2 separate regions of the Homo sapiens genome follow, and region 2 is linked to region 1. The links come from fine-mapping of genetic effects on gene expression. Tissue or cell type: whole blood. Region 1 holds a variant in brackets; the other region holds the start of a gene. All regions are shown on one strand. Distances are from middle to middle.

Evidence for each region. PIP is the estimated chance that this variant, and not a neighbour inherited with it, causes the effect.
Region 2: it holds the start of EPS8L2, and the variant in region 1 is fine-mapped to the expression of EPS8L2 in whole blood (INTERVAL, PIP above 0.99).

The regions. Positions count from the first base shown.
Region 1 is chr11:730,094-738,093 of GRCh38, forward strand. LOC105376509 (a long non-coding RNA gene) reads left to right here and starts at 6,431. Exons shown (of 3, transcript XR_930962.3): 1 at 6,431-6,644. RefSeq lists enhancers at 4,559-5,059, 5,060-5,560. The variant G/GA (reference allele first, on the strand shown) is at 4,376.
Region 2 is chr11:701,424-709,423 of GRCh38, forward strand. EPS8L2 (EPS8 signaling adaptor L2) reads left to right here and starts at 4,808. Exons shown (of 21, transcript NM_022772.4): 1 at 4,808-4,865; 2 at 7,907-8,000. The coding sequence starts at 7,985. It overlaps TMEM80 (transmembrane protein 80), which reads left to right. Exons shown (of 5, transcript NM_001042463.3): 5 at 1,522-2,706. The coding sequence ends at 1,727. It also overlaps a transcript of DEAF1 not described here. RefSeq lists enhancers at 2,721-3,648, 5,504-6,430, 6,431-7,358 and a silencer at 4,625-4,754.

The DNA.
Region 1 (8,000 bases):
CAGCCCCAGCAGTACTAGACGTCATGAGAGGCAAAACGACCAAGTTCACAGAAGATGCCAGGATATCCATGTGACAAAGGGGAAGAAGAATTTTCTGTACAAAACTTCAAAAGCAGTGGATACCAGGCGCGGCAGCTCACGCCTGTAATCCCAGCACTTTGGAAGGCCGAGGCAGGTGGATCACCTGAGGTCAGGAGTTCGAGACTAGCCTGGCCAACATGGTGAAACCCCATCTCTACTAAAAATACAAAAATTAGCCGGGCATGGTGGCGCGTGCCTGTAATCCCAGCTACTTGGGAGGTTGAGGGAGGAGACTCACTTGAACCCAGGGGGCAGAGGTTGCAGTGAACCAAAATCATGCCACTTCACTCCAGCAAAAGAGCAAAACTCTGTTTCAAAAATAAAATAATGAAAATTTTAAAAAGGGAGTCAATGAGTTTGATTTTGGCAAAATTAAAGACTTGCAGCCGGGCGCAGTAGCTCACACCTGTAATCCCAGCACTTTGGGAGGCCAAGGCAAAAGGATAGCTTGAGCCCAGGGGTTCGAGACCAGCCTGGGCAAATGGCTAGACCCTGTCTCTACAAAAAAAAATTATTAGGCCGGGCACGGTGGCTCATGCCTGTTATCCCAGCACTTTGGGAGGCCAAGGTGGGCAGATCACGAGGTCAGGAGATTGAGACTATCCTGGCTAACACGGCGAAACCTCGTCTCTACTAAAAGTACAAAAAATTAGCTGGGCATGGTGGCGGGCACCTGTAGTCCCAGCTACTGAGGAGGCTGAGGCACGAGAATTGCTTGAACCTGGGAGGCAGAGGTTGCAGTCAGCAGAGATCACGCCACTGCGTGAGCAGAGATCATGCCACTGCACTCCAGCCTGGGCAACAGAGAGAGACTCTGTCTCAAAAAAAAGAAAAGAAAAGAAAAAAAGTTATTAAATTAGCCAGGCGTGCTGGTGAGTGCCTGTGGTCTCACTGCCTGTGCTACTCGGGAGGCTGAGTGGGGAGGATCCCTCGAGCCTGGGAGGCAGAGGTTGCAGTGAGCTGAGATGGCACCACTGCATTCCAGCCTGGGCGACACAGTGAGATCCTGTCTCAAAAAAAAATTTTTTTTTTTTTTAGATAGAGTTTTGCTCTGTCACCCAGGCTGGAGTGCAGTGGCGCAGTCTCGGCTCACTGCAACCCCCGCCTCCCAGGTTCAATTGATTCTCCTACCTCAGCCTCCCAAGTAGCTGAGACTACAGGTGGGTGCTACCACGTCCGGATAATTTTTTGTATTTTTAGTAGAGACGGGGTTTCACCATGTAGTGGTCTCAATCTCCTGACCTCGTGATCAACCTGCCTTGGCCTCCCAAAGTGCTGGGATTACAGGCGTGAGCCACTGCACCCAGCCAAAAAAAAATTTTTTTAATGAAAACATTTTTTTAAAAGACTCGCATTCACTGACGGCCACTTGGAGGGGATGCTGACTGGCAAGCAGAGCAGACACCAAGGACAGTCTCTGGGAGACCTAAGACCCTTTCAGGGCATTGTGAGCTCCAGACGGTGTTTGTTTGTTTGCTTGTTTTTTGAGACAGAGTTTTGCTCTTGTTGCCCAGGCTGGAGTGCAGTGGCGTGATCTCAGCTCACCGCAACCTCCGGCTCCTGGGTCAAGTGATTCTCCTGCCTCAGCCTCCCGAGTAGCTGGGATTACAGGCGCTTGCCACCACGCCTGGCTAGTTTTGTATTTTTAGTAGAGACGGGGTTTCTCCATGTTGGTCAGGCTGATCTTGAACTCCTGACCTCAGGTGATCCGCCCACCTTGGCCTCCCAAAGTGCTGGGATTAAAGGCGTGAGCCACCGTGCCCGGCCCTCTACACTGTTTTTATAGCAAGACTTGAGAAGCAGGCCAGGCACGTGGCTCACACCTGTAATCCCAGTGCTTTGGGAGGCCAAAGCAGGTAGATTGTTTGAGCCCAGGAATTTGAGATTAGCCTGGGCAACATACCGAGACCCTGTCTCTACTAAAAATTTAAAAATTGGTGAGGCGCAGTGGCTCACACCTGTAATCCCAGCACTTTGGGAGGCCGAGGCGGGCGGACCACAAGGTCAGGAGATCGAGACCATCCTGGCTAATACAGTGAAACCCCATCTCTACAAAAAATACAAAAAATTAGCCTGGCCTGGTGGCGGGCGCCTGTAGTCCCAGCTACTCGGGAGGCTGAGGCAGGAGAATGGCGTGAACCCGGGAGGCAGAGCTTGCAGTGAGCCGAGATCACGCCACTGCACTCCAGCCTGGGCAACAGAGTAAGACTCCGTCTCAAAAAGAAATGTAAAAATTAGCCAGGTGTGGTGATGTGCATCTGTAGTCCCAGCTACTTAGGAGGCTGATTCGAGAGAATTGTTTCAGCTCAGGAGTTCAAGGCTGCAATGAGCTGTGATGGTGCCACTGCAACTCCAGCCTGGGTGACAGAGCAAGACGCTGTCTCAAAAAAAAAGGTGCTCTGGGTTGAATTATGTCCTTCAGAAATTCATATTTCAGTCCTTGTCCCAGCAACTCAGACTGTTGCCCTATTTGGGTCACTGCAGATGTAATTAAGATGAGGCCATGCTGGAGTACGGTAGCCCTAATATATCAAAAGGGGAGGCCGGGTGAGGTGGCTCACACCTGTAATCCCAGCACTTTGGGAGGCCAAGGCGGGCAGATCACTTGAGGTCAAGAGTTCGAGACCATCCTGGCCAACATGGTGAAACCCCATCTCTACTAAAAATACAAAAATTAGCCGGGCGTGGTGGCGGGCACCTGTAATCCCAGCTACTCAGGAGGCTTGAGACAGGAGAATCGCTTGAACCTGGGAGGTGGAGGTTGCAGTGAGCCAAGATCCCACCACTGCACTCCAGCCTGGGCAAAAAAAAATTAAAACAACAGATAAAAAGGGGAAACGTGGACACAGACACGATCGGGGTGATCACCGGAGGAGGGGGAGGTTTCTACATGCTAAGGAGCAACACGGAGCGGCAGCTCCCACAGAAGCCTGGAGAGGCCCAGAGCAGAGATTTCCACACAGCCTCGAAGGAACCAGCCCTGGCCACGCCTGCATCTCAGACTCCAGCCTCTAGAACCAAGAGAGGAGACGCGTCTGTTGTTCACACCACCCAGTGTGCGGCGTTTGCCATGGCAGCCCCGTGAAACACAGAAGCCTGCCTTCTCAACCGCACTCACCTTTGCTCGAATATGAGCAGCCCCCATTCTTCCCCGACACACACAGTCAAATCAGCAAACGTCACTGATTTGATGCAGTCTCACCTGGAAGCGTAAGCATCCGGCGTCCCGGGCGCCTGCTGCCTAGGTGTTGGGGCTGCCCGGGGAAGAGCTGGGAGCCATGTCCCAGCCGTGACTGACCTGGCCAGCTTCCCCAGGTTACTTGAAAGAACCTCTTGTGTCGAGACGTGGGTAGTCATTGTCTCCAAAATGAACAAAGTGAAAACAACGGACCCTCTTCGCTGCCGTGATAAATCTGCATTTTCCAGTGGACATTTGAGTTTTGGAAACTGCCATCATAGGCAAGGCTGCTCCACCACCTGAAGCTCTTTTTTTTTTTTTTTTTTGAGACCGAGTCTCACTCTGTCACCCAGGCTGGAGTGCAGTGGCCCGACCTTGTAGCTGGGACCTCATGATCTGCCTGCCTCGGCCTCCCAAAGTGCTGGGATTACAGGCGTGAACCACCGTGCCTGGCCCTGAAGCTCCTTCTGATAGGCTCAGTTAGGGAGCGTGCATGTTCCTTATTGAAATTGGAGGGGTCAGCACTTGGGGGTCTGGGAAACCCCACGACCAAGGCGGGACATTCCAGCATCACTCATGGGCCTAAGAGCCAGTCACAGAAGGTCCACAATGATCCAGAAAGGCTATCAGGGTGCCCTTCCCTGTTCCGACTACAAATCTGGATGAAGCCAGATTTTCCTCACATACTTCTCCTAGAACAATGATTCCCAGAGGCCTAGGCAGGCCCCGGGAGGAGGACCCCTGGGCCTAGGAAACCGGCATGATGGAGATTTTGCAAACGTGGATACCAGTGCCACTCTGCTCACTAGATTTTTTGTTTAACAAAGATGTACTGGGCCAGGTGCAGTGGCTCACACCTGCAATCCTAGCACTTTGGGAGGCTGAGGCAGATGCATTATTTGAGCTCAGGAGTTTGAAACCAGCCTGGGCAACATGGTGAAAACCCGTCTCTACTAAAATACAAAAATTATCCAGGAGTGGTGGCAGGCACCTGCAATACCAGCTACCTGGGAAGCTGAGGCAGGAGAATCTCTTGAACCCGAGGTGTGGAGGTTGCAGTGAGCCAAGACTGCGGCACTGCATTCCAGCCTTGGTGACAGAGCGAGACTCTGTCTA[G/GA]AAAAAAAAAAAACAGACACACACAAAAATTAGCTGGGCACGGTAGCACGTGCCTGTAGTCTCAGCTACTTGGGAGACTGAGGCAGGAGGATCACTTGAGTGCAGGAGATGGAGGTTGCTGTGATCACACCACTGCACTACAGCCTAGGCAACCCAGCCAGACCCTGTCTCAAAAAAATGTATAACTATTTATAGAAGTGTGCAAGCGTGAAAGCGCTGGCTCCCAGGACAGCCACGAAGCCACGGGTCGTTGACACAGCCGAGTGGGCGCCATTGCCGGAGCGGGAACCCGCCTGAGGGTCTTCACGGGGTCTGAGTGGGCGCCATTGCCGGAGCCGGAACCCGCCTGAGGGTCTTCACGGGGTCTGAGTGGGCGCCATTGCCGGAGCGGGAACCCGCCTGAGGGTCTTCACGGGGTCTGAGTGGGCGCCATTGCCGGAGCCGGAACCCGCCTGAGGGTCTTCACGGGGTCTGAGTGGGCGCCATTGCCGGATCCGGAACCCCGCCTGAGGGTCGTCACGGGGTCTGAGTGGGCGCCATTGCCGGATCCGGAACCCGCCTGAGGGTCTTCGCGGGGTCTGAGTGGGCGCCATTGCCGGATCCGGAACCCCGCCTGAGGGTCTTCGCGGGGTCTGAGTGGGCGCCATTGCCGGATCCGGAACCCCGCCTGAGGGTCTTCACGGGGTCTGAGTGGGCGCCATTGCCGGAGCGGGAACCCGCCTGAGGGTCTTCACGGGGTCTGAGTGGGCGCCATTGCCGGAGCCGGAACCCGCCTGAGGGTCTTCGCGGGGTCTGAGTGGGCGCCATTGCCGGAGCGGGAATCCCACCTGAGGGTCTTCACGGGGTCTGAGAGGGCGCCATTGCCGGAGCCGGAACCCGCCTGAGGGTCGTCACGGGGTCTGAGTGGGCGCCATTGCCGGATCCGGAACCCCGCCTGAGGGTCTTCACGGGGTCTGAGTGGGCGCCATTGCCGGATCCGGAACCCCGCCTGAGGGTCTTCACGGGGTCTGAGTGGGCGCCATTGCCGGATCCGGAACCCGCCTGAGGGTCTTCGCGGGGTCTGAGTGGGCGGCATTGCCGGATCCGGAACCCCGCCTGAGGGTCTTCGCGGGGTCTGAGTGGGCGCCATTGCCGGATCCGGAACCCCGCCTGAGGGTCTTCACGGGGTCTGAGTGGGCGCCATTGCCGGAGCGGGAACCCGCCTGAGGGTCTTCACGGGGTCTGAGTGGGCGCCATTGCCGGAGCCGGAACCCGCCTGAGGGTCTTCGCGGGGTCTGAGTGGGCGCCATTGCCGGAGCGGGAATCCCACCTGAGGGTCTTCACGGGGTCTGAGAGGGCGCCATTGCCGGAGCCGGAACCCGCCTGAGGGTCGTCACGGGGTCTGAGTGGGCGCCATTGCTGGATCCGGAACCCCTCCTGAGGGTCTTCACGGGGTCTGAGTGGGCGCCATTGCCGGATCCGGAACCCGCCTGAGGGTCTTCACGGGGTCTGAGTGGGCGCCATTGCCGGATCCGGAACCCCGCCTGAGGGTCTTCGCGGGGTCTGAGTGGGCGCCATTGCCGGAGCGGGAACCCGCCTGAGGGTCTTCACGGGGTCTGAGTGGGCGCCATTGCCGGATCCGGAACCCCTCCTGAGGGTCTTCACGGGGTCTGAGTGGGCGCCATTGCCGGATCCGGAACCCGCCTGAGGGTCTTCACGGGGTCTGAGTGGGCGCCATTGCCGGATCCGGAACCCCGCCTGAGGGTCTTCGCGGGGTCTGAGTGGGCGCCATTGCCGGATCCGGAACCCGCCTGAGGGTCTTCACGGGGTCTGAGTGGGCGCCATTGCCGGATCCGGAACCCCGCCTGAGGGTCTTCACAGCATCTGAGTGGGCGCCATTGCCGGAGCCGGAACCCGCCTGAGGGTCTTCGCGGGGTCTGAGTGGGCGCCATTGCCGGAGCGGGAATCCCGCCTGAGGGTCTTCACGGGGTCTGAGTGGGCGCCATTGCCGGAGCGGGAATCCCGCCTGAGGGTCTTCACGGGGTCTGAGGGGAAAGCAGGGCCGGGGTGGGCGTGTGGAAGGTTTTGGGGTGTGGCTTCAGGTGAGTCTTCAGGAGGCTTCGTTAGGATTGGGCATGTTTGGGACGGAAGTGGTTCGGGACTGATGGACATAAGAAGGGTTTGGAGTGAGTCTGGAGACTGAGCCCAGCTGTGCTGTCCGCTCACAGGTCCTAGGCAACGACTGTCAGGAAGTTCCCAAAATAAGTCACTCACAACCTCATCGTCCTGGGTAAGTTTCCTGATATGTTCCACAGCTCAATGGTCCATCATTGTTTTTGGTTTTGTTTTGTTTTGTTTTGTTTTGTTTTGTTTTTGAGGCGGAGTCTCGCTCTGTCGCCCAGGCTGGAGTGCAGTGGCGCGATCTCGGCTCACTGCAAGCTCCGCCTCCCGGGTTCACGCCATTCTCCTGCCTCGGCCTCCCGAGTAGCTGGGACTGCAGGCGCCCGCCACCACGCCCGGCTGATTTTTTTTTTTGTATTTTTAGTAGAGACGGGGTTTTACTGTGTTAGCCAGGATGGTCTCGATCTCCTGACCTTGTGATCTGCCCGCCTCGGCCTCCCAAAGTGCTGGGATTACAGGCGGGAGCCACCGCGCCCAGCCTGTTGTGTTTTGTTTTTGAGACAGCGTCTCGCTCTGTTGCCCAGGCTGGAGTGCAGTGGGGCAATTGGGGTTCACTGCAGCCTCGACCTCCTGGGTTCAAGGGATCTTCCCAGTCTCCACCTCCCAAAGTGCTGGGATTACAGGCGCGAGTCACTGCACCCGGCTCCATCTTTTTTTCCCCCCAAAACTGGCTGTCAAGAACAAGGAAAATTAAAAAAAAAAAAAAACACAAGGAAAATTTACCATCTTAACCATTTTCAATTGAACAGTTCAGTGGCATTGAGAAAGTGGAAAAACTCAAACCGTGTTCCCTCTGGTCTCACTGCACAGTAATAATCAGCACAGAGAACTTCTGTTTCTCCCGCACACCAAGCAAGCAGCCAGCTTTGCAACAGACACAGAGGAGTTCTGTTTCTCCCCGCACACCCAGCAAGCGGCCAGCTCCGTTTTTCCTGCACACGGAGCAGGCAGTCAGCTGTGTCTCCCGCACACCGAGCAAGCCCTCAGCTTTGCCACAGACACCGGCTGGGTGTTCTCCCTTTCAGTTCGCTTCTGAGGCTGTCTACCTGCAGTTAGCCCCAGATCCACAGGCTGGGGGCTCAGTCCCACAAGACTGCCCCACACTTCCCACCAGTCGTGAGTCCAGGCCTCTGGAAGGTGTCACCAAATGGCATTAAATTGGGGTTCCCACCACCGCCCTCTTTGGGCTTGATTAATTTGCTAGAGAGGCTCACAGAACTCAGGGAAACACTTTTACCGATTTATCACAAAGAATATTTAAAAGCATAGAAAGACAGCCCGATGAAGAAACGCACAAGGTGGGGTCTGGAAGGGCCCCGAGAGCAGGAGCTTCCGTCGCCGTGGAGTTGGGGTGCTCCACCCTCCCTGCACATAGAGGAGTTCCTGTTCACCTTCCTGTCGGCCCCATGTGTTCAGTTATCTGGACGTTCCCCAAACCCTGTCCTCCTGGGTCTTTTGTGGAGAC
Region 2 (8,000 bases), 29 kb before region 1:
TTTTTGAGACAGAGTCTCGCTCTGTCGCCCAGGCTGGAGTGCAGTGGCGTGAACTTGGCTCACTGCAAGCTCCGCCTCCCGGGTTCACGCCAGTCTCCTGTCTCAGCCTCCCGAGTAACTGGGACTACAGGTGCCCGCCACCACGCCCGGCTCATTTTTGTATTTTTAGTAGAGATGGGGTTTCACCATGTTAGCCAGGATGGTTTCCATCTCCTGACCTCCTGATCCGCCCACCTCGGCCTCCCAAAGTGCTGGGATTACAGGCGTGAGCCACCGCGCCCGGCCGGAGACAGGGTTTCGCTATGTTACCCTGGTTGGTCTTGAACTCTTGGGCTCAAGCAATCTGCCCACCTTGGCCTCCCAAAGTGCCTGGCCTCACTCCCCTTTTTTTAACCACACAATTTGTTCAAGGGTATGTTCTTGTACAAGATTCAAGGGGTGCAGAAGTAAAACATGGAAATTCGCCCTCCCCAGAGCTCACCTCTGTGGCCAGCGGGGTGCAGACTTCCAGCCCTCTGCGTGCTCATGGTCGTAACATGTGCACCTAAACACACGTGTTTGTGAAACATTGTCCTGCCGTGGGGAACGCAATGGGCACTTCCAGGGCGCTGTGCCCCTGCCAGGCTGGAATCTTGGGCCCCTCTTGTTCACATACAGATACACCCCTGATGCCTGATGTCCAGTGAGGAACCAAGGCTGCGGGGAAGGGTGGCCCCCACCCTTCCTCTTGTTATCAGGCCTCAGACACACTAGGAGGATGGAGGCGAGTTCTCTCAGCTGCCCATCCCACTGAGGGGTGCCCGGCCGTCAGTGTCTTGTCTGCACTTACGTCCCAGAACCTCTAGAGCTTGCCCCCCAGGGCGGGCACTGCTGGGAGGGTGCGAGCACCGCTGCGGCACAGAGGCCCGGTTCTTGGCTGATCTTCTGGGGCCTGGGCCTGCCCTGAGGTGGTGGGGACAGGGTGTGGCCTGGCCCTGCTGGGGGCTGCTAGGCCAACGGGACCCTCCCCAAGCGCGCCGCACACTGCAGGGTCTCCAGGCACCTGGGCTCAGCTAGTGACTGACCCATTTGTTTGCTAAATACGCAGTTTTGTTTTTAATACATACTCGTGAAATTTTCCAGAACTGGCCTTGGACCAGAGAAAAATACTTTGGGAATTTTTCAAAAAAATCCCTTCAGTTCCACTTGGAATTAGGAAAACGTGGCAGATGCACTTGAATCATTTTAGAAACCAAATTCACCCCCGCCCACACAGCCGACCCAGAAGACCCAGAGACAGATCAAACCATGCTGTTGCAGGGGCACCTCCCCCAGGAGGGGCTCACGCCTGTGTTGCCCATGCTCTCTGGCTCTCCTGAGTTCTGGGTGGCCATGGAGGCTGTTTCCCTGGAATTCCCCAGGCCCCGGAGGAACGTAGGGCAAGGAGCTGCTCTGGTCCCAGCAGCCCTCCAGGCACCTGTGGGCGGTGGGCTCCAGGGAGCGCCTCGCACCACCTTCCCTCCCCTTTGCTCTGTTCTCCAGGCACCAGGGGCAACCTGACAGAGGCTGAGAGGCCGCTGGCCGCCAGCCTGGCCCTCACGGCTGGCACCGCCCTCCTCTCTGCCCACTTCCTGCTTTGGCAGGCCCTAGTGTTGTGGGCGGACTGGGCCCTCAGCGCCACGCTCCTGGCCCTTCACGGCCTGGAGGCCGTCCTGCAGGTGGTTGCCATCGCGGCCTTCACCAGGTAGCTACGGACACCCGGGATACCCCACACTGGGGCCCTCCTCCTGGGCCTGACCAGTCCCCCAGCTGTCACCTCCCCATTCCTGGACAGGAAGGGCACTTTTCCTAGTGACTGGCCATAGATGGTTTTGGATGGTTCCATCTGTTCTGGCAGGAGTGGGAGCAGGAGCCAGGGCAGAACAAACTGCTGGAGGCCCTGGTGTTGGGAACAGCTGCGGGGAGGGTAGGGACCAGACAGAACTGCCTTCAAGATGAGTCCCAGGAGCGCACACTCAGCCCTGTCAGTGGGGTCTGGCTTTAGCAGCCAGGCCTCCACAGACCCCCATGGGCCCCCAGGGCCGAGAGGGAGGACAGAGCCCTTCAGAACAGAGGCCTCATCTCACTGCATCCCCCATCACCCCCTAGTTCCCCAATGGTCCTAATTTGTGTTCTGAGATCCCAGTTTACTCCGTGGCCAGGCCCCACCTGTGTTTCCAAGTCGGGCTGGAGACGCAGGATGGGGTAGGCCTTGTGCTCTGAGCAACCCCAGCTCTGCCTCACAGGCAGGCAGGCCCGGTGCAAGAGTGGACTCTGGGTTCCTAAAGCAATAAATGCAAACAAGCCAACAGCTCTGCTGCCTAGCAATTTCCATCTTAGCCACACTTCTCCCTTCAGGGGCTTCGGAGGAGAGGTCAGGGCTAAGGCCGGGGATGAGACTGCAGGAGAGAGAGCAGCGGAGGGCCACATTCGGAGCCTCCGTCCACTCCAGTTTTATCAGCTTTTGCCTTTTGCACGGAGTGCTAAACAAATTCTAGCTCTGTGTTTTTTTCCCATTCCCAGATTTACTATCAGTTCTCCTTAAAAAGTATCTAAGCTGTTACAGTAGCTTTCCCTTCACTTGATTCTATTGTGTGTTTTCTATGTTTGGAATAATTACACCCAAATATCTAGATATTTTCTCTTCACCGCATTTTGTAAATAAAGAGATGTGTATGCCTCCCTGAATTCTCCTAATTATGGCCACCTCCCCCACCCCATCTCCAGTTCTCCTGCCCTGCAAGAGAGCACACCCCACTTGCCAGCTGGTCAGTTCCTGGCTGGCCTCGCCCTCGGGCCCTGGCTGCCGGGCGCCTTCCGCTCGGTGGACTCCTGAGGGCAGGAGGCTGCGGGACTGTCCTGGGCCTCCACTGGGGCTCCCTCGGCTGGGGTGGCTGTGGCTGTGGCACCTGGACAGTCTTTCCTGCCTGTCTTCGTGGAAGCGGTGGGAGCACCCAGTTGTCCTGGGCCGACTTCCTTTGACCTGTCTGTGGCCCCCAGTGGCCACGGTGAGCTGCAGGACAGCCCTGAGGACCCACTTCACACACCAGCGCCTGAGCGCCTCGGGCCACCTCCCTCACCAGCGCCTGCACTCGCAGAAGACCAGCTGGGCACACCTGCCATCTGGAGGACCCAGCCCACAAACCATGCAGACCAGGGAAGGACCCCCTCCCTGAAGCTGGAGACCTGTTGCCTTCATGGTTAATGGATCCTGATACCTCCAGTCTCAGCGAGCACACAAAGGCAGTGGTCACCTGTTCCACAGGGAACGCCATGGCTCCAGGTGACCCGGAGTGGATGGGGCCCGAGAGGCCAGCCTGGACTGTCTCCTGAGGGCAGGCTCCGCACTCAAAATCGTGTTGACAGGCACCCGTTTAGGAGTGGAGAGGGACCCCACCCCCCAGCTGTCCTCTCCAGCGCCTGTTTCCCACTTGGCCACTCCCAGCTCTGCCTCCAGGAAGGGTGAGGGCACGGGTGCACCGAGGGGTTGGCGTGTGTGACCCTGAGCTCTGGGTCAGGGCAAGCTCATGCATGGAGCAGGATCACGGCAGGTTCCTGGAGATCAAACGGCAAAGGCTGTAAACCAGGAAGCCAGGTCTTGCCTGGGCTCAGGGGCAGGCACTGGGCCCGAAGGAGGAGGGCCACTTCCTGCCAGCCCTCCACCGAGCTCACCTATGGCGCCTCCCCAGGAAGTGCTCCGGCCAGCCCAGGGTAAACACGCTAGCCCTGCCCCTCTGGGACCATAGCCCGGGGACCCAGACTCTTGGCCACGCTCATTCCCACCCCTACCCAGGACCGGCAGCCGGAGCCTTGGGTCCCTGCATGGGCCTGGGGCGCCCTGTGCCCCTTCACCTCGTCCTCGTCCAGTTGACTGCTGTGGCAGCCGGTGCTACCCGCTGTGTCCACTGCACCCTGGCCCTGTTCTGAGCGGTCACAGCAGCTGGGGAGAAGGGCCATCCTGGAAGCCGGGCAGATGAGGACGGAACCAGACAGTCCCACTGTGGTGGGCAGAGGTGGGGCCTGGGCCTGACCACGGGGCAGTGCAAGGAGAGAGGCATCCTGAGAGGGCCTGAGGTGTCCCCACCTCCCCTGACACCCCATCCCTCAGTGCCCAGGCTGGGCAGAAAGGGGGGCCTGGAGGAGCAGCTGCACTGTGAACTCAGGGCTCCAGGCCTGGGGTGGGCATGGCTGGGTCCTGCCTGACACCCACCCACTCACCGAAGCCTCTGCCCCTGGGCCTGCGGTGGGCCCGGTAAGGGAAGTGACTCTGCCCCATGCCTGGGGCACCTGAGGGGTGCACCTGGCCCGGCGGAGGCTCTGACCTCCCCAGGGCTGGAGCCCTCCCCAGCAATGCGCCAGCGCTGCCCCCGAAGTCCCATTGGCAGCGTTCCCCCGTCCCCCGGCCTGCTGGGGCGCAGCTAGGCCCTGCCCAAGGAAGAGCTCGAGGCCTCGCCCTGCTCATCCCGCGGAGGCGGCCCTGCGCCCCGCCTGTCCCCAGCGCCCCAGCTCTAGGGGCTAGGCCCGCGGAGGGGCACACCAGGCGGGTGTTGGGGAGGACGCAGAGGGCTGGGGCTGGAGCCCAGGCGGGGCAGGGGGCGGGGCGGAGCTGGGTCCGAGGCCGGCGGGGGCGCCTCCATCCCACGCCCTCCTCCCCCGCGCGCCCGCCCGCTCTCGGGTGACTCCGCAACCTGTCGCTCAGGTTCCTCCTCTCCCGGCCCCGCCCCGGCCCGGCCCCGCCGAGCGTCCCACCCGCCCGCGGGAGACCTGGCGCCCCGGCCGAGGCGCGAACAGACGGACGCACCGGCGAGCGCCGAGGGGACAGGCCGAGCGCGGGGCGCCGGAGGCAGGTGAGCGCTGCGGACACGGGGGAGCGCGCCCGCCCGGGCCTCAGTTTACCCGGTGGCGATGGGACGCGGGGCTTCTGGTTCAGGACACCGGGACGAACGCGGCGTCGCAGGGCGCGGGGCACTTGGAGGGCGGCCGGGCCGAGGGCGCGGGGCAAGGGGCTGGGGGCCTGGTCGAGTCCCCACCTCTCCTGGACGGGTCCTGCTGCAGCCCGGCCTGCCCCCGTCGGTCCTGGGCGGCGGCCGGCGAGCAAGGATATTTTTAAGCCAGCGATGGGTGACTCACCTGCCCCGTCCTGCCCACTCCCAGCTCTGGGGCTTGGTGGGGGCAATCCCTGCGTCCGGAGAGCGCTGGTGGTAGGGAGGCTTCTCCCGGTTCTGTGAGCAGCAGGACCCTCCCGAGGGCCTGACCGTGGAGGTAGCACTGCACACCCACTCCCTGTGGGCCGGAGCCAGGAGGCACTTCCTGGGTGTCGGAGCCCAGAAGGAAACCAGTGGCCGGGAAGCACCAGCTGGGTCAGTCTCCAGGTCAGGGTTGGGGGTGGGAGTTTCAGGGAGGAGGGGAGGCTGGGACAGGGGCTGCAGAGGCCCTGCCAGGAGAGGCAGGAGGGTGGGCTGGCAGGAGCCTGTGGGCACGCGAACTTCAGCCATCCTAGATTCCTGGTCCCTGCGTCCAGCTGCCTGGCGTTGCCCCTTGCTGCGGGGTGTCCCTGGTGGCAGGGGAGGGGGAGGCAGGGCCGGGCATGCCCGGACCTCTGCCCCCACCCACCCCGTGCTCAGTCCTGGGTCGGCTGTGCTGGGAGGCAGGCCCAGCTGGCGGCGGCCCCTCCCCTCGCGGCCCCTCCTCCCCTCGCGGCCCCTCCTGGGTCCCAGCCTCTCCCGGGCCTGCTTAGCACCCAGGCCTTGTTGGCATAGCTCTCCCACCGGGCCTTCTCCGCCTGCCTCGGTCTCCTTTCCCACCCTCAGCTTCCCCAGCTTATCCCTTCCTCCCTCAAGCCATAGCTTCCAAACAAGGACAGGGCCAGGGCCTGAGGGGCCTCCCCATTCCAGGGCCCCACCCAGCGCCTATGAGGGCAGCCTGGAGCCCCTGTGACTCAGCTGACCCCTCCCCAAGGTCACTCAGCATGTGGAGCTGGAACTTGAACTTGGAGCCCGTCCCTCTACCCTCCTGCCCTGCTGGGACCTCCTCCCCTCCACAGCCCGACTGACCGGGCACCCCGCTCTGCCTCACTTCACACCGGGAAAATGACCACAGTACAAAGTGCAGCCTGGGCCTCCAGGGCTTCGTCCCCACCACCAGTGGGCCAAAGAAGCCTCCCCAGGGGGGCGGGGCTCCCACAGGGCAGGAGGCAGCCCCATACCCATGTGCTTCAGACCCAGACACCACACCTGGACCCACCCCACTGCTGCCCGGCCCTGCCTGGGCCTGAGGTCCCCGATGCCCTGCAGGCAACCGAAGGCCAGGAACCTGGCCTTCCCCAGGGGGGTCGCGTGTCACAGCCCTCCATGTTTGCGTGCCCCCAGGCCTGAGTCTGCAAGGGTGCGTTGGTGTCTCGCCCAGGTGTGTGCCTGGACACACGTGCCTGGCGCCCTTGGTGGAGCCCGCCAGGAATCCCATTAAGCAAACACTCAGGCTCGCCACTGAGCCCGTGAACATTCCAGACATTCTCCACGGATAGATGGATGGAGGAAGTGGCCATACCCCCTGGTGCACCCAGCCCCTCATGTCAGCGGCAGTGCCCCCGGGCCTCCCAGACCCTCCCACTAGGCCAGACCTGGTCAAACCAGAAAGTCCCGGGTGCTCCGAGCCACTCCCTTGACCCTCCATACCAACAGCAGTGGCTGGTGACCCCCACCGTGGCAGACCCAAACTCTGAAGCCACAGGGGACAGCCCTGCAGCCCTGGCAGGAGGCAGATGGTGTGGACCTGTGGGGAGCTGATCACAGAGCCACAGAACAGCCAGGTCCCCACAGGGCATAGTCCCCTTGGGACAAGTCAGCCTGGTTCAGGGCCATCAGGCTCTGTCCATCCCCCCGGGAAGCCCCTAGGGTCCAGCCCAAATCAGACCCACCTGTCTGCCCTGGCGGCTGGGCCTTAGTTTCCCCAAAATGCTCGGGGAAGAGGTCAGCACTAGGAGCCCAGAGACAGGCTCTGAGGATTCTGCCCCTGGGGGAGGCCAGAGGCACCTGCCCCATAGCCACCCTACCTCGTTGGAGGGGCAGTGATACTGTGTGTTGGGGCCACTGGACTGGCTCCCAGTCTCAGCCCCCACCACACCTGCCCTCCAGTCCCTCCCCTAGGCTTGGCTGCTGCCAGGGGTTCTGCGCTGGCCACCTGGCCGCATCCCTGCCCTCGAGGTGAGGAAACACTGCACCCCGGGGACCCCAGGGTTTCCTGCCCGCACAGCCTCTTCCCTGCCAGGTCTCCCAGGCCCAGGAAAGAGCCAAGGGCCAGCCTCTTTGCTGGGGCCTGGACAGAGGTGGCATGTGTGGGTGGCAAGTCCACATGTGGGTGCAGGAGCCCCTTGGGGTGCAGGCCTGGGGTGGGGCAGGAGTGGCGGCTAGAGCCGGGCTCCCTCTGGACTTCAGGACCTACCCCAACTCCAGCCTCACCTCTCCTGCCATCCTGCAGCTCCCACCCGCCCTCCCCCAACCCCCACCGCACCCCCCTCCCCCCACACTCCCACCTCATCCCCCTCCCCTTACCCATCCCACCCCCCTCCCCACAGCACCAGGGCCTTAAACTCCATGCTGCCCAGCTTGGAAGGCGCCTTCTGCCCCCAGGGCCCTTGTCAGAGCCTCCCAGTCAGCCTCTGGGGGGTCCCTGTGGAGCACCTAGGGTCTGAGGCATGACGAGGCTGATCGACTGTCAACTGGGACGTGGGGCCAACTGGGACGTGGGGCCAACTGGGATGTCGGGCAGGGGCTCTGCCCCCCAAGGGACCCCCACCCAGGCCAGGCCAGTCAGGGATCTGGCCCAGGGAAGGAGGGGAGGAACCAGCCAGGCCGGAGGAAGTGTCAGCGCAGCCCTTCTGTCCACCCAGGTGTGGGACAGGCACTGGCCTCAGACCGGGGCCACACTGAGGTCTGCCCTTCTCCCGCTGGCCGCCACCCAAGACACCATGAGCCAGTCCGGGG